Regions from separate parts of the Homo sapiens genome. Here regions 1, 2, 4 and 5 are each reported to be linked to region 3. Evidence: microRNA targets listed by miRTarBase, many of them from high-throughput screens and not tested one by one. Region 3 holds a microRNA gene; each other region holds the end of a gene's coding sequence.

Region 1 (4,121 bases), not on the chromosome of region 3:
CAAAATTGATTCTACCCATCCATGAGCATGGGATATATTTCCATTTGTTTGTGTCATCTACGACATTTTTCAGCAGTGTTTAGTAGTTTTCTTTGTAGAGTTCTTTCACCTTCTTGGTTAGGTAGATTCCTTAGTAATTTGTTTTGTTTTTCTTTTTCTTTTGCAACTATTTTCAAAATGGATGAGTTTTTTATTTGATTCTCAGTTTTGAAACCTGCATAGCCAAAGAAAGACTAAGAAAAAGAACAAACCTACAGGCATCACATTACCCAAAGTATTACAAGGCATATTACAAGTTACCAAAACAACATGGTATCAGTATAAAAACAGGCATATCGATCAATGGAACAGAAGAGAAATTCCAGAAATAAAGACAAGTACTTACAGCCCACTGAACTTTGACAAAGCAAACAGAAACATAAAGTGGGGAAATGACACCCTATTCAACAAATGGGGCTGGAATAATTGGCAATCCCCATGTAGAAGAATGAAACTGCATCTTTGTCTCTCCCTTATAAAAAGTCAACTCAAGATGGATCAAATAATGAAATCTAAGACCTGAAACAATAACAAATTCTAGAAAGTAACATTGGAAAAACTCTTCTAGACATTAGGTTAGGCAAAAACCTCATGACCAAATATCCAAAAGCAAATGCAACTAAAGCAAAGATAAAGAGTTGTGATTTAATCAAACTAAAAACTTCCGCCAGCAAAAGAAATAATCATCTGTGTAAACAGACAACTCACAGAATAGTGGAAAATATTCATGAACTATTTATCTGACAAAGGACTAATGTCCAGAATCTTCAAATGGCTAAAAAAAAGCAAAAACCCACCAAAAAGTAGCCTAATGTAATAAATAGACAATTCTTAAAAGAAGATATATAAATGGCCAACATATATGAAAAAATGCTCAACTTCACTAATTATCAGGAAAATGCAAATCAAAACCACAATGCAATACCACTATACTCCTGAAAGAATGAATATAATTTAAAAATCCAAAAATAATAAAATGTTGGCATAGATGTGGTAAAAAGGGGACAGTTTTATGCTGCTATGGGAATGTAAACTAGTACAAGTAATATGGAAAACCATATGAAGATTTCTATAAGAAATTACAGTAGAAGTACAGTTTGATCCACCTATCGCACTACTGTGTATCTTCCCGGAGGAAAGAAAATTTTTATATGAAAAAGACCCACACACATACATGTTTGCAACAGTACTATTCGCAATTAAAAAAGAAAAAGAATGGAACAAGCCTAAATGCCCATCAACCAACCAATAAGTGGATAAAGAAAATGTGGTATACATACAAACACACACACACAGATGTTGCAGGAAGTCAGGGATCCCGAATGGAGGGACTGGGTGGAGCTGAGGCAGAGGAACATAAATTGTGAAGATTTCACTTTAATATGGACATTTATCAGTTCCCAAATAATACCTTTAGAATTTCTTATGCCTGTCTTACTTTAATATCTTAATGCTGTTATCTTCATAACCTGAGGATGTACATCACCTCAGGGCCACTGTGATAATTGTGTTAACTGTACAAAGTGCTTGTAAAACATGTGTGTTTGAACAATAAGAAATCAGTGCACCTTGAAAAAGAACAGAATAACAACAACATTTAGGGGACAAGGGAAGACAACCATAAGGTCTGACTGCCTGTGAGGTGGGGCAAAAAGAGCCATTTTTTCTTCTTTCAGAGAGCCTATAAATGGACGTGCAAGTAGGGAAGATATCGCTAAATTCTTAGCCTAGCAAGGAATATTAATATTAGTAATCTGGGAAAGGAATGCATTCCTGGGGGGAGGTCTATAAACAGCCACTCTGAGAATGTCTGTCTTACGTGGTTGAGATAAGGACTGAGGTATGTCCTGGTCTCCTGCAATACCCTCAGGCTTATTAGGGTGGGGAAAATCTCCACCCTGGTAAATTTGTGGTCAGACCAGTTCTCTGCTCTCGAACCCTGTTTTCTGTTGTTTAAGATATTTATCAACACAATACATGCACCACTGAACATAGACCCTTATCAGTAGTTCTGCTTTGCCCTTTGTCCTGTTCCCTCAGAAGCATGTGATCTTTGTTCTGCCTTTTGTCCTTTGAAGCATGTGATCGTTGTACCTACTCCCTGTTCCTACACAACTCCCCACCCCACCTTTTGAAACCCTTAATAGAAAACCTGCTGGTTTGAGGCTCAGGTGGGCATCATGGTCCTACCAATATGTGATGTCACCCCCGGCAGCCCAGCTGTAAAATTCCTCTTTTTGTACTCTTTCTCTTTATTTCTCAGCTGGCCAACACTTATGGAAAATGGGAAGAACCTACATTGAAATATTGAAGGTGGGTTCCCCTGATACAAACACACACAAACACACACACACACACACGTATACACACGCATATACACTATATATATATATATATATATATATATATATATATACCATGGAATACTACTAAGCTGTAAAAAGAAACAAACTAATGGCATTAACAGCAACTTGCATGAAGTGGGAGAGCATTATTCTAAGTGAAGAAATTCAGGAATAGAAAACTGAACATCGTCAATTGTCACTTCTAAGTGGGATCTAAGCTATAAGGATGCAAAAGCATAAAGATGATGTAATGGGCTCTAAGGATTCAGATGGGAGTGTGGGAGGGGGTGAGGGATAAAGAGTATACATTCAGTGCAAGGTACACTTCTCACATGATATGTGCCACGTAACCTCAGAAATTACCACTAAAAAACGTATGCATCTAATCAAACACCACCTGTTCCCAAATAACTATTGAAGTAATTAAAAATATCAGAATAAAATCAACGAGAAAAATATCTTTAAATATCTGGAAAAAATAGAATTTGCTCATGAAACCAAAGATGTGGCAAAACAGTTCAATTTTACAGTAGGAAGCAGGTAACAGTGGCTATATTTCTAATTTCACATAATTTCCACTGAGAAATGACTTATGCTCTTAAAACAGTAAACATTTGGCCATCAATTTTAGCAAAAAATGTGACAATGAAGCTGCATGCAGTGTAAAAGTAAAGCAATACTACTTATCTCAAGATATCAAAAGGAAGAGAGAGACTTTTTATACAATTTAACTATGTAATAGTTTCTTTAGCAACAGTTAAAACAACCGAATCCTGTTCAAAATGAAGCCAAATTATTCTGAGTATGTGCAAAACACTACTGATACTGTCAGTAGACTTCTTAATGTTCTTGTGTTTATATAAAATGTGTGAAATGTAGTTAAACTGAGTAATATTTTTATGTAACTTGTGAATTCAAACAACAAATCTCAATATAAGTGCAACAAATTTCAATATGAGCTCATATGGCTTTATATTATTTTTTATTTTCCCTAGTGTTTTCTTCATTGCCACAGAATATTTCTAACCATTACCTGGGTGGTAAATCTCTGAAAAACAAATTTTTACTTGACAAGGTAGATTTTGAAAAGTTTTTTTTTTTGTCACAGGAAGAAAGAAATCTTGCATAACAATCTTTTCTTTCTTGCTGGAATAAACTGATGTCAACCCATCTATCTGGTTTTCCAGCTTCAAATGTCAGACATAACTAATCTCTTTTTCCCTTCTTCCCTTTTCTAGCAAACTTCCAGAAACAAAACAGACAAAACTTTGTGACGACAAATATCACAGTTGCCACACAGGCCAGCAGAAACCCAATCACATCCAAAGAGTGGTACTGGAACCAGGTGAGGTCACGGGCTGCAACTCGAAGGTGTTTGGCTCCTTTGTGGCACATCACAAATTCAATCCAGAAGACTGCTCGATGCAGGGGCTTTACTGGTTGATCATGTTGAATTATTGATAATTTCATAACATTCTCTTTATATCTGAAGGATAAAAATAAAGATACCAACACTGAAAGTAAGTTAACTGGCCTGTATGTATCAAGTCTATGAAAGGCTTTTAAAGTGTCAAATAATTCAAAGTAAATTTGAAAGAATTGACAGAGAATTTGTGTATTTTAATTTGAGTCATCATAGATAGTTGGGCTTTTAAATTGGACTTTTCTCATTGACAAACATTTTTAAAGCAGAAATGGAAGGTCAGGTGAGAAAATTAATTTTTTTCAAGCAGAGAA
Region 2 (4,122 bases), not on the chromosome of region 3:
CTCTTCCTGCAGGGCTTACCACCCAAAAGATGGGAGGCAGAAGATACCCACCTGAGTTGCCCAGAGCCCACAGTGTTTGCTTTCTCACCACTCCGGACTCCACCTTTGAGCTCTTTGCGAGAGATGTGGATTTCCAGCTTTGAACAATCCAAGAAAGAAGCCCAGGCACTAAGGTGGCTGGTTGATAGGAATCAAAACTTTTCATCTCAAGAGTTTTGGGGCCTAGTATTCAAGGACTGATTTCAAAAATGATCAGAATGAAACAGACTAGAGCCTTCTTGAGGTTTATTTTCTAGGTTGCCTTAATATTTGAACATAATAGCTATTCTGTTGACTATCCATCAGGATAATAATTAGTTGCTGCAGTACTCATAATGAGCCCTTTCAAGGAATAGATGTAAATTACCCTTAGGGGTAGCCACTATATTTTTTATACTAAAAAAGGAAATATTTCTTATGGACACTGGTTATCTTCCATGTCCGTGTCTGTGGACCCACATACTTACTGCCTTTTGTGGAAATTCACCTAGAGTGAGTACTTTCCTTGTGCAATGGAGGGAGACGATCTAGCTATAGATTCTTGATACTCACCTCACTCTCAACAGCTTATTGGTATTTGGCAAACCTGGTATCCTGCAGCCGAGCATGAACATGAAATACATTAGAACTTGGCAATGAGAGATCCCATCTGTTGGTTTCCAGGGATGTAAGTGAGTAATAAAAGCTGTTTCAAGTTTATCCACTATCCACTCTTCAAGTGAAAAGAACTTATGTGTGTCTACCTTCTTCTCCATACCCTGAGCCACCTCTCTCACTTTCTTTAGTTGTGCCTTGCCCTATCGCCTCCCATTTTCCCTTCAAAGTAGAATGTCTTGTAAAGACACAGTAACTCCTGTGTGTTTTGATTAGTGAGATGTTACCACTTACCCCTTCTGCTGCGCAGAATAATATTAAGAATTGCTATGCTTATGATTCAGGCTGGACAGCCTGGACATTTTGAGCAGCGCGAGAGTAGAAGTGAATACCCCCAGGAACTCCAATTGTGCTGAAGCTGATTTGTCTGTTCGTAGGATGATGTGCAGCCTGTCACAGTGGCAGCCACAGGCATTCAGTTTGTGGGCATTTCCTGTCATTTCGGATCCTGCTATAGGGAAGGTTCAGCTCTCCTGTCTGGGGCATCTACTGGAGCACCTCAGAAGACAAGGAGGAAAACACTGGCTCATGTTTTCTTTCCATGTGAGGGAGGGGAGGTTTCTAGATGATACTAAAAGCCTGTTGCCACTGTTGTGTCATGATTTCCATTCTTCATCATGGAAAGCCACAAGCCTCAGAAGGCAGCCAGAGGACAGGAAGAGTCTGTGATGCTCATGTCTGTGTCATGGCATGAGGGGGAATTGACGAGTGCTTGCTTAGCATCAGCTCTCATTGTATTGAAGGCTGTGCCCTTGGTGTGCTTAGCAGTGAGCAGCGTCTTCATTAGGTAGCTCTGGCTGGGCTTTGTCAGCCAGCGTGTGAGAAAGGAGAACCAAAACCAATACCTCCTTATAGAAGCCAGAAGGATCACATTGGATGAGAGAAGGTGTCTATAACTGGGTTCTTCCCAATCCCAGCTCTTTCATTAACTAAATATGATCTTGGACATATCTCTTAACCTCCATCGGCCTTAGTTTTTGCATCCAAAAAGAAGTGATTGGGCTGGTCTTGGAAGGTTTTTTTCTTTTTTTTCCCCTGTGTAACATTCTTCATTGTTCATCAACATTTAAGAAATTTAATTTTGTAGATGTTTTTACTAAAGAGGGTAACAAACTATTTTGGAACTGCTGTATGTTATTCAAGGGAAGCACGCTGTTTGGAGGAAGGAGCATACTTAATGGGTAGTATTGAGGATGAAAGGGAATTTCTCTCTCTGCCATTTTATTTGATAATATTAAAGAAATAAAGACTGGAAAGGGGGATTCCTTGTTAAAGGTCAGATTTTAAATTGCATATAAAATGAAGTGAGTTGTGTTTTTTTGAACCCTCAAAAGAAAGCCTGAGAGGTGATTTATGCCTCTGGCAAGGTATTATCATGATAACTTCAGTTCTTCTCCATAAATGCCTTCAGCAAATACCCAGTGCTTATGTGCTGTGTGTATGTCTTAAACCTTAACTTTCATGAAATCTCATTCCATCTTAGTTCTTCATCAAGTCCATAGATAAAATCCTCTCTAAGCGTTTCTGAAGTATGTATCCCTGAACAAATTTAGTGAAATAAAATCATTAATCTGTGTTGATCCCATTTTGCCATACCTTTCACTTTACCTCACTGTCTCCTTTTGTGAAATATTTTAAGAAAGCAACGTCCCTCACAGGACTGTTTTGAGGAATGCCTCATGGCTGTGAAGGAGTTTGTACAATGCAACATTTTGCTTAGCCCTTCAGTACATTTTACTTGGATTGTTTTCAAGAACTTTATTTTTTTTGAGAAGAAGTCTTGCTCTATCACCTAGGCTGGAGTGCAGTGGTGCGATCTCAGCTCACTGCAACCTCCACCTCCTGGGTTCAAGCGATTCTTCTGCCTCAGCCTCCCAAGTAGCTGGGATTACAGGCACCTGCCACCAGGCCTGGACAATTTTTTTTTTTTTTTTTTTTTTTTTTTTTTTTTTTTAGTAAAGATGGGGTTTCAGCATATTGGCCAGGCTGGTCTTGAATTCCTGCCCTTAAGTGACCCACCCACCTCGGCCTCCTAAAGTGCTGGGATTATAGGCCTGAGCCACTGCGCCTGGCCATTCAATGACTAATTTTTAAAAGCAATATTACAAAGTGGTCAGAAGCCTTTTCAGAAATGTTGGAGAAAATGATCACTAATGCTAGTTAATAGTCTTCGCCTAAAAATGAATGCAACTTTTACCCTTGATCATATAGCAAATATATTTTGGAACCTGAATGCTGAATGGCTTCTTTGTTGCTGTTAAGGACTAGATTCTAGTAACCAGAATATCAGTTGGGGTCATTATCATTGTTAGTAATAGATTGGAAACATATAGTGTTCTATGCATTACTCAGAAATAAGAGACATAAGCAAAAATGAACATCATTCCTTCAGCCACACATTGTATATTACACATAGAAGAACCTGCTCAATATCTATAAAAGACTGTATGAATTCAAGCACAGTGCCGACCTGCCCAGTAAAATGCCCAGTAAAATGTGCATTAAAAAAGTCATTAATAGGACATAAGTCCTGCTAAAGATGGCAATTCATTAGGACCTCAGGCTGCTGTAACAGAATACGATAGACTGGGTGGCTTATAAGAAACAGAAGTTTATTGCTCACAGTTCTGGAGCAAAATATAAATTATGGAAATTTTCTTTAGGAAATTTCTTTCTTTTAATTTTTATTGTTAATGGTAATATCTTTACTGTGTAATTCTAATATCAGCATATATCTTGTTGTCTTTGATTACAGACATAAAAATGCTTGAAAAACTCAAAGGGGATATAGAATGATGACTCTAAGAAATAATCTAGTTTTAGTTGCTACTCTGCAACATACTGTCTTTATTATCTTGGTCAAGTTATATGGCCTTTCTAAGATTCAGCTTGCTCATCTGTAAAATGGATGTTATAATATCCAACCTCCTTGTGAGGTTATTGTGATGAGCTAGTGTTCACTTTGCTCAATAGATGCTTGTTGTAGTGGTTACAGCTATCTGTGGTCATTACCCTTTGTGTTTGAAGAGCTTGACTGAGATTTGTCCAGAAAAAGGGAATCGTTGATGATAGTACCTGGGGTGGTACACATTTATTGTGTTACAAAATAGGCATTGTACTAGGCGCCATTGCTGATAGGAATAAGACACAGGAGAGAGAGGTGTGAAGGGTTTTGAGTAGGGCTTTTTGATATTATGATGGTATTAAAACCAAGGACTGAGGAATGCTTAAATTATTCTCTGACTCTTCCCACCCTCCATGGGATTTCTGGTGGAGTCTTGCACAAAGCTCTCAATAGGATAATCAGACTCAAACAGCCTCTTTATAGTAGCTTTGCAAACCACATAAATGCAGTACACTGATTGATTGTATAAGCTGGATCTGAGCATATTATTTAGATTTGAAGTGTAACTAGGAGAGGATCTTTTA
Region 3 (4,122 bases):
CACTCTGACATCTGAACAGAAGGAAGGGCTGCCCAGGCCCCTGCCCCACCACCTCTCATTTAATCCACAGGGAGACAGGGAGCCCAGCCTTGGGACGTTGCTAGCAGCTTCCCCTGAACCCTCGAGTTCTCCTGTAGCAAATTGGGCTGACCAAAGAAGGCTGGAGAGGGGAGGAAGGCAGTGCTGGAGAAAGGAGTGGTTACCTTGAGTGGGGCTGGGGGCCGGAGGGTCTGCGCCTCCCCTCCCTGCCCCAGCCCCTCCCAGGCCCGCTCCAGGGCCAGCCGCACTGGGCCTCATTCCTGGAGGGCCCTGTCTCTCGGCAGTGTTGCTAGGTGCGGTGAGCCCAGGCGCCTGCCACCGGCTGGCCAAGGCTCTGCCTGGAGACCATCGGAGAGCTGGGAAGAAGGAGCTGCATTATTTGGTTGATCCCTCCCTCCCTCCCCCAGCCTCAGCACAGTGAGCTTTCCGGAGGGATGGTTCTGAGCCAGCCCATCCCCAGGCCTTCCTCTTTGTGCAGAGACCTCCCCGTCAGACCCCCCACCTTCGCCGGCTACCCCCTCCCCCTTCCCTCCGGTTGAGCAGAGCCAGAGTTAAGCCTGGGGTTAATGCCCAGTGACACCTGCAGGTTGGCTAGTGTTGTTGACATGGGGCTGGGGGGAGGGGAGGGGGTGATGGGGGAGATCGTTGGTGGCTTTATTATGGAGAACTCAGCAGGCCTGGGGCCTTCTATTGTCCAAGTGGCAAATAAATAAATAGGAGAAAGTAAGTCTTCCCCATGGCTTACCGACGGGAGGTTAACAGCTGGACATGACATGACAAATTGGGCATTTTTCTTTGGGGACTGATCCTTACAGCAGCTAGCAGGGAGAATGAGAGAGAGAGAGGGAGGGGGAAGTAGAGAGAGCAAAAGCAAGCCGGAGCACGGAAGGGGCTAGTCACAGAAGTCAACGTGGAAGCCGTGTGTGCATGTACAAGAGTACGTGACCGGGGTGTACAGGAAACATTGCATCATGTTTTGGGCATTAAAAAAAAATACATGCAAGCATTTCACATGTAACGACTTCAGGAGTCAATCCCAGAACCCCAAAAGCTGGGTATCTGGCTGTGGGGGGAGATATCTCTGGGATCTGCCTTCTTGAACCCCTCCCCCGTCCTGCCAAATGGAAAAACCAAAAGGTCAACGCCAGCTCTGATCCCAAAGAATCTCCTTCCTCCAGATGAGTGGGATTACTGGGCAGTGGCGAGTGGTGGAGCAAGCAGCCTATCTCCAGCCTGGGCCCGGGGTGAGAACTCTTGCATTATGCCCAGTTGCCCGGAACTGGTCCCAGCTGGACAGCAGAGCATCCCACTGGCCTGTGGAGCTGGGGACAGAGAGCAGCAGCTCTCCCCTGACCCTGTCCCATCTTCCTCCTCATCCCCAGGGAATACCCAGCAAGAGGTCGGGAGGACCACAGGAGACAACCACTCCCAAACAATGATCTCAGTTGCCCACTGTGAACTGGAGCGGGGGTGGGAGAAGAACAGAGCAGGAGCAGACAGGAAAATGCTTGATCTCTGCCGGGGCCCCAGAACCATCTGAGCCAAGGACTGCTCTCCATCCCTGTCTTCTGAGGCTGTAGATTATAGTGGGTAGTCACTTGTGCTCTGGAGTCAGACAGACCTGGGATCACCCTGTTCCTCTTGTTCTTGGCCCTGTGATCTTGGCATGCTATTTAACCTCTCTGAGCCTCAGTTTCCTTATAGGTAAAATGGGACTAATACCAGTACTAGCCAGCACGAGGTTTTAATGAGTTCATGCATGTAAGTGCTGAGTGCAGAGTCTGGCACACGATAAATCCTTTATAAATGCCACTCAGCATTGCTCTGGGGCTAGCCAACCTTTTCCTCCCTGTTGCCCTGTGTTTTAAGATTGACTGAGGGCTCTATAGAACTGTCCTCCGGAGAAGGAGGGAAGTGCATCTCTAGCTCACCTTTCTGGAAGTTATCCTTTCAATCTCCAAAGGCTGGGCATGGATTAGCCTAAAGCCTTGTGGAACTTTGCCTTCCAAGACATGTTTGTTTCTAGCAGTGGGCTGCAAGGAGAAGCCTTGTGGCTGTGATTCTGCTCCATGCCCACTCCACGGCGGATGCCTGACCAGTGTTCCAAGGACATTTTGAAGGAAGAGAGGATTTCTGATTTCCAGGAGGGGTTGTTGTATGTCCTGGAATGCAATCTCTCCATTCTCCCACTGGGTACAGAGAAAAACCACAGGAAAATGGTGAGAAGATGCTGAATGAGTTAATGCAACCAGGAAATACTTATTGAGCATGTACCAAGTGTCAAGCATGGCTCTAGACCCTGGGAATAGAGCCACAAACAAAGCGGGCTAAAATCCTTGCCCTTGAGGAGCTTACGCCGTAGTTCTCTAGGAAGGCAAGCGGGACACCTCGGCGTTGCCTCCACCCCTTCCATGTGGCCATGGTCCATTGTGATCTTCTATGCTCTTCCTGTTGGATTCAAATCAGGCCTCACAGAAGAGCCAGTCACAAAGGGAACTCGGAGATGTGCAGGACAGAGAGAAGAGCTGACGGGACATCTGGTACCTTCGGTTGGAGGGAGGGCAGTTTCTGAGGATTAAAAGAAGCTTTATTGAAGGGAGGTTTGAAAGGAGAAGAATTGTGGAGAAGAAAGCTACTGTGTATTTCATGCTGATTCCATGCCATTAACTTTCAGGCACTTTACATCCATTATCTAATTTTATCCTCAGGCACTCAGCAAGGCAGTTCACGTTATTCCCACCTTGAGATTCAGAGGAGGAAGTGACTAATCCAAGATCCATAACAGGGAAATGGGAAGAACTAGATTTGAATCCAGACCTTTAGTTCTTCCCTTTGCCCAATTATGCTCCTTGTGGTTTGCTGGAGAAAGCCTGGCAGAGGGTGCAAGGGCAACAGTGGGGGTGGGGGTGCAGAGGCTAGGAGACCTGACCAGAGTGTAGAGGGGTTCACAGGGCCAAGGAGAGGAGATATCTAGGGGGCCTAAAGATGGGTGAGACCTCTGAGCCTCCCTAAAACAGCATACTGCAACCTCTTCATCAGAAACCCAATTTTTTTTTTTTTTTTGAGATGGAGTCTCACTCTTGTTGCCCAGGCTGGAGTGCAATGGCGCAAACTCGGCTCACTGCAACCTCCACCTCCTGGGTTCAAGCAATTCTCCTGCCACAGTCTCCCGAGTAGCTGGGATTACAGGCATGCGCCACCACGCCCGGCTAATTTTCTATTTATAGTAGAGACGAGGAGAAACCCTTTCTTGCATGTTCTCCTACCTCATTGCAAACCTTTCTGAACTGAGTGAGGGGCATTCTGAACCTGAGAGAGAAAGGGGCTAGTTCTCTGAAGATCATCACCAGACCATAGAACCAAAGTGGGTAGAAGGTTTGTAAAAGGAGGTGGAAGGTGTGACAAAGACAATAAGCACCCGAGATGACTCACACTGCTTGCCAGGTAAGCATGGGCTGCAGGACGTGGGAGGAGAAGCTGGCGAGCTCACTCTCGGTCCTGGTTCTTCCGGCCACCCAGCCTCTTCATGGCCAGTACCAGAAGGCCAGATCCCTGTCCTCCTCCCCAGGCCCAGAGCCATGGCTCAGTGGCCCCCCAGGCCCAGCCTAAGAGGTCGCATGGCTAGGACTTCTACCTGGAGAATCACCTCCACCGCAACATCTGAGAGCAGGAGCCACACAGGAGCTTTCTTCTTCCAGGAAGTCCCTTCCCCCAGCCCCCTGCTACTCACTCCCCTATATAATATTCCACGTTAGAGCTCATAAATGCTGCTGCGGGTCCCCAGCCTGATTGAATTTGGAAGCCATTGTTTACAGACGTCTGGCTGTACAGGGGGATTTATTGAATTTTCCATGAAATGTTGCTCCCCTAATGCTGTAAAAGGCAAGCAGACCACATCAGAGGAGCCCTGCGTTACAGGATCATGTTACCCCGAGATGGAGTGCTTGCTTCAGAGTCATTGATGCACCGAGCTCTGGCTCTGAAAAGTAAGACCTCGGGCATCACTCCTGACCCCTCGCTGGCACCCCAAAGCTGGGACTTCTGAGCCAGCTCTGCCCCTGCATTTCCCTCCACCCATGTCTG
Region 4 (4,122 bases), not on the chromosome of region 3:
TCTTTGGCCTTGCCTTGAAGGAGGTCAACCCCACCACTCACTCCTACATCCTCGTCAGCATGCTAGGCCCCAACGATGGAAACCAGAGCAGTGCCTGGACCCTTCCAAGGAATGGGCTTCTGATGCCTCTACTGAGTGTGATCTTCTTAAATGGCAACTGTGCCCGTGAAGAGGAAATCTGGGAATTCCTGAATATGCTGGGGATCTATGATGGAAAGAGGCACCTTATCTTTGGGGAACCCCGAAAGCTCATCACCCAAGATCTGGTACAGGAAAAATATCTGGAATACCAGCAGGTGCCCAACAGTGATCCCCCACGCTATCAATTCCTGTGGGGTCCAAGAGCTCATGCAGAAACCAGCAAGATGAAAGTCCTGGAGTTTTTGGCCAAGGTGAATGACACCACCCCCAATAACTTCCCACTGCTTTATGAAGAGGCTTTGAGAGATGAAGAAGAGAGAGCTGGAGCCCGGCCCAGAGTTGCAGCCAGGCGTGGCACTACAGCCATGACTAGTGCGTATTCCAGGGCCACATCCAGTAGCTCTTCCCAACCCATGTGAGATCTAAGGCAAATTGTTCACTTTGTGGTTGAAAGACCTGCTGCTTTCTCTGTTCCTGTGATGCATGAATAACTCATTGATTTATCTCTTTGTTGTATTTTCCATGATGTTTCTTAAAATAGAAAGTTTATTTAGATTCAGAATATAAATTTAGAAATGGCATGCATCACACATTTATTGCTGTTTATCAGGTTGGTTTAGTGATAATAATTTTGTTTTTGAAATACAAATAGAAAATCCTGAAATAATTTTTGTGATACAGAGCAAAATAACACGGCATGGGAGTAAGGTTATCCTTAGAAATTTAAAATAACTCCACAGTAAAATAGGTAGAATCTGAAGATAGAAAGGGAAGAAAAGTAAAAGTTGCTTTATTCGTGGTTTGTCTTACTCAGTTCAGTCTTTTTTTGCTCATAAATTTAAAAGTTACATACCTGGTTTGCTTAGATTATTCAAGAATGTGGAGGCCTGGGCCAAGGTCAATGACAGTGTCTCCATTGTCTTCCCTCCATTAAGAGAAGACTTTAAGAGATGAGGGAGAGAGAGCCAGAGACAGTGTTGCAACTGGGCCTGGCATGTTTCAGTGTGGTGTCCAGCAGTGTCTCCCACTCCTTGTGAAGTCTGAGGTATATTCTTTACTTTTGATTAAGAAAACACTTAACCTTCTAATTAATGGAGAGCCAAAGGGGAGTTGGTGGGAACACCATGTATAACATATTTGTATGTAAAATGATTTATCTTTTCTTTTTCCTGTTTTTCAGTGTTCTTTTTTTAAATTGTAGATTTATTTAGTTTCAGAATCTAAGTTTATGAATGGCATGAATCACTCATTTATTAAAATATATCAGGTTGGAGAGTGAGAATTTTTGCATTATGTAAAACAATTTAAAAATCTTTTAAGTCTTTTTCTGTGATCTAGAACAAGATAATATGGCATTGGAATATGGAATTTGTGAAAAGGAAATTACCTTGCAATAAAGTTGGTGGGACCAGGAAGTAGAGAAAAAAAAAGTAAAATGTGGTCAATTCTTGCTTTGTTTTATTCTTTTTAGTCTTTCTTTGTAAAACTGAAGTATATGTACCCGGATCTGCTTAGCTTTTTCAGGAATGTGGGGGAAATTAAATAGCAATACATTTGACTTCCTGGTCACTTACACTTCAATTGTCCAAATATTAATTGAGCAGCTGTACTTTGGAGGGCTCCTGGCTAGTACCGGATAAGCTAAGAAAACAAAAAACAAACAAACAACAAAAAAACCCCAATCCCTGCCCACAGAATTTTAGAATCCAACAGCAGCTATCATATAACGAAGGTAATGAGATACTCCTTAAGACCTAAAGACAGGTGAAAAGGGGATAAAAAAGAAGGTGGGGGTATTACCAGCAGTGGAATCTAGTGTAAATGTCCTAAGCAAGGTAACTGAGACTTCGGGAAACTGAACATACTGCAATAGGAGGTAATTTTATGTCCTGGCATAGTGCCTATATGGGGCGCACTGAGCAGGGGTCACACACTCAGATGGTGGATCTCACACTTGAGAGATGGAGACTGGAATGAAAAATTGCCTTTAACAGTTACTTTGGGATTGTGGAAAAACCAGAGGGGATCTTTGCCTGGAGCAGGGATTGAAAGTGGCCGGTGCTCTTGTCCCAGTGCAAGTGAAGTGAATCCAGTACACAAACTAGGTGTTTTATGAGCGTAGTCCCCAGGGTGTTTCTGAGAAATAAAGGTGATACTCCTTTAAGACTGGAAACTCATAAGCCACTGGGCTAATACTCTGCTATCAGCTGGGGAGCCAGAACCCATTCCATTAAAAGGAATTTTTTTTCCTTTCATGTGTTTTTGCAAATTCTAAGGGAGATCTAGATTTTTGATGGTGGTAAAATGAATGAAAATAAGACTGGTTTGGATGAAAGGTCAGAGTTGGTCCTTGAACCAAAGCCTAGAAGGTTTGAGTTGCTTTCAGCTGAGAAAGACAACTCCACACTCAAAATATGATTTAATATGGAAAAGTTATTTAGAGTTTCTTTGTAAGCTGCGTTTTGGGCTGATTTTATTGTTCCATGTCTTAGAATGCTGTATATTCTTTGTTATCTCTTGGACTTAAAGAAAATCAGCAGGGTGGATGATTTCTTCTGTAGTTGAAATAATCTTAGTAATAACAAGTATTGTTTAAAGTCTCAATGCACACCAGGGCTTTGCACACTTTCACCACATTCCACCAGTCCTACAAGACAAGGCTTATCAAGCTCATTTCACAGATGTAGAGCCTGAGGCTCATAGAGTTTATTAATGTGCCCAAGTTCACACAGCTAGTAAGTGATAGGGCTGGAACTAGACTGCTGGTCTGAATTCCTCTAGAGCCCACACTGTTCCACTCCTCCCAAACTGAAGCTTACTGTGAATTGCTTAATTCATTTTCTTCTACAACCCCAAAGTGTGTCTCAGGTAAGAAAGAAGAGGTCTCTGTACCCCAAACACTGGATTGGAATACATAACCAGAGCAAGAAGAATACCAAAATAATTGACAGATGTGAATTAAAGAGAAAAAGAAATAATACTCGGTGACAATATGATCACCGACAGAAGCAAAATTGGATAGCTTCAAAAGATCAAAAGATTACAAAAATCATCTGGCTCCACCCTTTTCTGTAGAAAGTAAAACTTTTAGAACTACCCTTTGGTTGGTGAAGTGAAGGAATAGATCAGCATGTTTTTTTCCCTGAGAGCACAACATCTGTCCTAGGCTCTCCACCTTCCGTTTCAGTTTCCCAACATCACATCACTTCTGGGACAGGGACCTCTTCTCTGCAAGGTTTGCAAAGAGGAAACTGGTCAAATTTTTGCAGGGATGTGACATTTCCCTGGAAGAGTTTGATCAAGAGACAGAAGCCAACATGAGAACCCTCATGAATGAATGGTGGGGAGAAAACCACTCCAAAATGTAAGGGTTCATCCAGACCCTCAGGAGAGTGACCTCAGTTCAGTAGATAGAGGAGTCCCAGGTTCTGATACATGTAAAGGCGAGGAGCATAAATGAAGACTGATGGAAGGACCCAGCCAAAACTGTGGGGTTCTATGGAGTCCTTTCCTTATTATCTGTTTTTGCAGGTTGCAAAAGGACTGTGATCATATGAAGATCATCCAGGAGTACAACTCGAAATTCTCAGAAAACAGGACCTTGATGTGAGAGGAGCAGGTTCAGGTAAACAAAGGGTAAGTTACAGGTTTGCTCACTTGTCAAGGTGAGGACCTGAATGTGGACTAAGGGTAGCTAGCACCCACATGGCCTCACAAAGTCCCCTCTGCTGTCAGCCCTAGGAAGCCTTGGCGGAGATGGCAGGCTGAATTCTGCCTGGAAAGTCTCAGGGAGATGACTGGTTCCGTCTAATTGGGGCAGCCTCAGTTTTACAGAGCGAAGAGGCCGAGACCCTAACAAGAATCAATGTAGGGCTTTTAAGTGTTAAGAGGGGACTCCACCAGCAGATGAGTCCCCACAGAATTCACCCCGTTTTGAGGCATCAGACAGAGCTATCTACCTAAGGTGCCTCTCATTTCCGC
Region 5 (4,122 bases), not on the chromosome of region 3:
AAAATAAAGCACAGACAACAGAATTATTCTTCACTGAGAGAGTTTAATATGCGTTTCTAACACCATCTATACTTGCTTTGTTGTTCTTGAGGTCATCAACACACATTCTGGTTATTCCAGAGCTAGAAGCTCTTCTGGTTGCTAACTCAGTTATAAGAAGATGAAAGACATAACTAGACTTACGTATTTCAGTAGTTTGCTCTTTAATTTTTCCCTTACTCTTAGTTTCAGGCGACCTCCAAGAAGGGTATCAGTCGACTGGATAAACAGATGAGAAAGTTCACAGATATAAGGAAAAAAAGCAGATCTGCACACGCAGTGAAAATCAGCATTGAGGGCAACAAAATGCCATTGTGACCTTGCCTGGAATGTGTCCCCATCTCTACTCTAAGAAATGCGCAATGGACTCTTTGGAGAAAGAAGATATTTTAAAACATTTTTAGTGTGTCTGTAAATGGTTCAGCGTGTATCAGATGTTGTCATAGGACTCACATTTCTCTCAGTTATATTTAAAACCGTTGTGTACTTTGTACAAAGGAATACTAGTCATACTTCTATAAACTTTACACAATAAAATTTCATTCTGGTTTTTGGGGGGCTGTCTCTTCATTTCTTAGAGGATACATTCTTAATAGGGGCAAAGATTGTTTCTTGTTGTGTGGGAAAAAATCTTATGATATTATAGGGGTTTGTGACCCTTAGAGGTTCAATCCTCCCTCATTGTGGTATAATGAGGAATTTGTGTGGCCTTTGCCCCTGGTTGCTGACAAGGAATGTCTAAAACACTTGTGGTTTCCTGAGTGATAGAGCGTCTCTTGTTATGCTAACGAGGTGACTGTATGGTGGGCTTTAGGGTGGAGGCTGGTAACCAGAAACAGCTACTACAGAGGGTTGGGCCAGCAGGACCCGGGAGATTGAGACGCAGTCAGTGACCTGTTTGATTTAATCAACCATGCCTGCCAAATGGGACCTGATGAAGAGCTCTGGACCCCACAGCTCAATGACGCTTCTTGGTTGGTGAAAGCATTGGTGTGCTGGGAGGGAGAGGATTCCCCTCCATGAGGACAGGGGCACAGAAGCTCTGCCTTCCCTCCCAGACCTTCCCTTATGTATCCCTTCATTTGACTGGCCCTCCTAATTCATATCTTCTGTAGTAAAACTAATCATAGTGTTTTCTAGGGAAGGATAGTGCTTTCCTGAGTTCTGTGAGTCATTTCAGCAAGTTCTTAAACCTGAGAGGTTTATGAGAACCCCAAATTTGTAGCTGGTCAGAAGCGACAGTAGCCTGGATGCCTCACTTGTGGCTTGCATCTGAAGTGGGGGCAGTATTGTGGAGGACTGACCTCTTAAACCCGTGGAGTCTGATGCCAGCTCTGGGTGTGTCGTATCAGAATTGAATTGCAGTACCTCAGTTGGGGTGGAAATGGAATACCAACAAAATCTTATTAATGTGTTTCTCTTATTTGGGATAATTATTTTGATTTTCATTTTTCTCTGGGATGGGGGCTTATAACAGAGAAAAGATCAAGAAATACTACTGTCTTCAAGGAAATATGGATATAACTGAAAATCACTATGCCGAAAGCTTAGAGCAGTTGAGCAGTTAGAGGAGAGAGAAAAATTATAGCTTGTAGCTATGTTTCTTGTTGCTCTATTTTTGTGATAATAGTCTCTATAGACTTAATTATGAGAGGTCTCTTAAGGTCAAGATGACGAGGCCCAAGAACGTTTTATCAACTAGATTATTTTAATTTCAGAAATCCTATTCTGATACGGATTGGCACCTTGATCTTCAGAAACACATAAAACTACTTTTGGCCAAAAAAGCCTTTGAACAGCTAAAATAATGAAGTTTAGATACTAAAACACTGCTCACAAGAAACTCTCAAACTATTTACTTCCAGCAAACGCAGAAGCACAGTGGGATATAGTGCTTTGTAAAAAGCAGGTGCATAAAGGCATTAGAAGGTAATAGCTAGCCACTAGATGGAGACAAAAACCTAAGCTTTTCTGCAATGTTTCATACAAATACCCTCAAAAACACTTGAGAAGGAAAAAGCAGAGGCATCTAGTGAAGCCTTACACTGATCATTAAAAAATAAATTTGAAACAAAGACAACAAAGGTTGTATTTAAGAAAGATTTTTAAGTTACACAATTTTGTCATTTAATGGGGTAAGCTCCAATTACCTGAAAATTTCACTATTACAGGGTAAAACTTTAACGATGTTGGCAAGTAAAAAGTTTTAAACCATACCCGGGGAATTCAAAATGGTAAGAGATTCTCCTGTACTGTGTTTGAAGGAAAAAATTAGTTTCTATATAAATGATCCTTGGTGTTGGTTTTATGGCAGCTCAAACCTAGCTGGCCAGAAAAACCTTTAATTTTGAAGATATTTCCAATTTATAGTAGTTGCAAAAATAGTAAATAAACTCCGGTATACTCACTGATATTTACCAAGTGTTAACGTTTTGCCACGTCATTGACTCTGTCATCTTGTATATGCATAGAGCTATTTTTGCAGACTCAGAGTAACTTGCCGACAACTTGCCCCTTGAGCCCCAAATACTTCAGCATATTTCTTCCAAGAACATAGACTTTAGTTTTGTCCCAGAATTGATGATACTAACTTTGACAACTTGGCTATGATGATACAGAGTTGTGGGGGATTTTGTTTGTTTTTTAAGAGATGGGTTCTTACTGTGTCGCCCAGGCTGAAGTGCAGTGGTGTGATCCTAGCTCCCTGCAGCCTTGAACTCCCAGGCTCAAGCAATCTTCCTGCCTCAGTCTCCTCCCAAGTGGCTGGGACTATAGGCATGCACTCTCATGCTTGGCTTTTTTTCTTCCCCTTCCGGTTTTAAGATTTACTATCTTAAACAGTTTTACCGCTCAGTGGCATTGAGTATGTTCACAATGTATCGCCATCACCACCATTCATCTTCAGAAATCTTCTCATCTTGCAAAATTTTAACTCTACCTATCAAAGAACTCTCCTTCCTCCCCCAAGCTCTTGGCAACCACCATTCTACTTTCTGTCTCTTACGAGTTGTCTGTTCTAGGTACCTCATATAAGTGGAATCATACATTTGTCTTTTTGCGACTGTCTTATTTCACTTGGTATAATGTCCTCAAGGTTTGTCCATGTGTCCAAATTTCCTTGCATTTTAAGGTTGCATAATATTCCAGTGTGTGTATATACCACATTTTGTTTGTCCATTCATCTGTCAATGGACACTTGGGTTGCCTCCACCTTTGGCTATTGTGAATAACGCTGCTGTGATCATGGGTGTACAAGTATTTGTTCAAGACCTTTTTTTCTTCACTTTTAGAGATATTAAAAAACAACCATTTTTTTTTCCAATTCTTTTGGTTATATACCTAGAAGTAGAATTGCTAGATCATATGGTAATTCCATTTTAAATTTGTTTAGAAAGTGCCATACATACACTTTCCATAAGGGGCTACACAATTTTATATTCCCACCAATAGTACACAAGAGTTCCAATTTCTCCATATGCTTGCTAACACTTGTTATTTTTATTTTTTGATGGTAGCCATCCTAAGTGATGTGAGGTGGTATCTTGTGATTTTAGTTTGCATTTCCCTAATGATAGTGATGTAGAGCATCTTTTAATGTACTTTTTGACCATTTATATATCTTCCTTGGAGAAATGTCTATTCAAGTCATTTGCCCAGTTTTATATTGGGTTGTTTGGTGTGAGTTGTAGGAGTGCTTTGTGTACTCATGTTAATGCTTTATCAGCTATATGATTTGCAAATACTCTCTTTCATTCTTTAGATTGCCTTTTCACTCTTGATTGTGTTCTTCGTTGCACACATTTAAATTTTGCTGTATCTCACTTTTTTCTTTTATTGCCTGTGCTTTTGGTGTCATATCAAAAAAATTATTGCCAAATTCAATATTATGAAGCTTTTACCCTATAATTTTGTAAGTTTAGTTCTTATGTTTAGGTCTTTGATCCATTTCTAGTTGATTTTTTGTATGTTGTGTAAAATAAGGTTCCAACTTTATCCATTTGCATATGGATATCAAGTTTCCCCAGCAACATTTACTGAAAAAAACTTATTTTCCCCATGGAATGGTCTTGCAAGTCTTTTCAA

The links. The annotated mature microRNA hsa-miR-5584-3p reads UAGUUCUUCCCUUUGCCCAAUU and lies in region 3 at 2,860-2,881, shown strand. An mRNA with a match to its seed (bases 2 to 7 or 8) in the 3' UTR can be bound and repressed. Matches are read on the target gene's strand: a 7mer-m8 pairs with bases 2 to 8, a 7mer-A1 pairs with bases 2 to 7 and ends in A, and an 8mer does both.
Region 1: the mRNA of UGT2B28 is a reported target of hsa-miR-5584-3p. The part of its 3' UTR that is shown has no 7-base or 8-base seed match.
Region 2: the mRNA of POFUT3 is a reported target of hsa-miR-5584-3p. Seed matches in the 3' UTR shown: 7mer-m8 at 763-769.
Region 4: miRTarBase lists MAGEB4 as a target of hsa-miR-5584-3p. The part of its 3' UTR that is shown has no 7-base or 8-base seed match.
Region 5: the mRNA of IWS1 is a reported target of hsa-miR-5584-3p. The part of its 3' UTR that is shown has no 7-base or 8-base seed match.

The regions. Positions count from the first base shown.
Region 1 is chr4:69,294,279-69,298,399 of GRCh38, reverse strand. UGT2B28 (UDP glucuronosyltransferase family 2 member B28) reads right to left here. Exons shown (of 6, transcript NM_053039.2): 6 at 3,350-3,870. The coding sequence ends at 3,591. Among named protein-coding and RNA genes, the nearest start is that of UGT2B28, 16 kb to the right of the region's middle.
Region 2 is chr8:33,368,695-33,372,816 of GRCh38, reverse strand. POFUT3 (protein O-fucosyltransferase 3) reads left to right here. Exons shown (of 5, transcript NM_032664.3): 5 at 13-1,993. The coding sequence ends at 240. Among named protein-coding and RNA genes, the nearest start is that of POFUT3, 100 kb to the left of the region's middle.
Region 3 is chr1:44,542,672-44,546,793 of GRCh38, forward strand. It overlaps MIR5584 (microRNA 5584), which reads left to right and starts at 2,822; the gene lies at 2,822-2,881. All of the region lies in intron 2 of RNF220 (ring finger protein 220), which reads left to right. RefSeq lists an enhancer at 3,039-3,565.
Region 4 is chrX:30,242,617-30,246,738 of GRCh38, forward strand. MAGEB4 (MAGE family member B4) reads left to right here. Exons shown (of 1, transcript NM_002367.4): 1 at 1-1,571. The coding sequence ends at 560. It also overlaps a transcript of MAGEB1 not described here. Among named protein-coding and RNA genes, the nearest start is that of MAGEB1, 2.5 kb to the right of the region's middle.
Region 5 is chr2:127,477,279-127,481,400 of GRCh38, reverse strand. It overlaps IWS1 (interacts with SUPT6H, CTD assembly factor 1), which reads left to right. Exons shown (of 14, transcript NM_017969.3): 14 at 226-589. The coding sequence ends at 357. Among named protein-coding and RNA genes, the nearest start is that of IWS1, 47 kb to the left of the region's middle. RefSeq lists an enhancer at 643-1,594.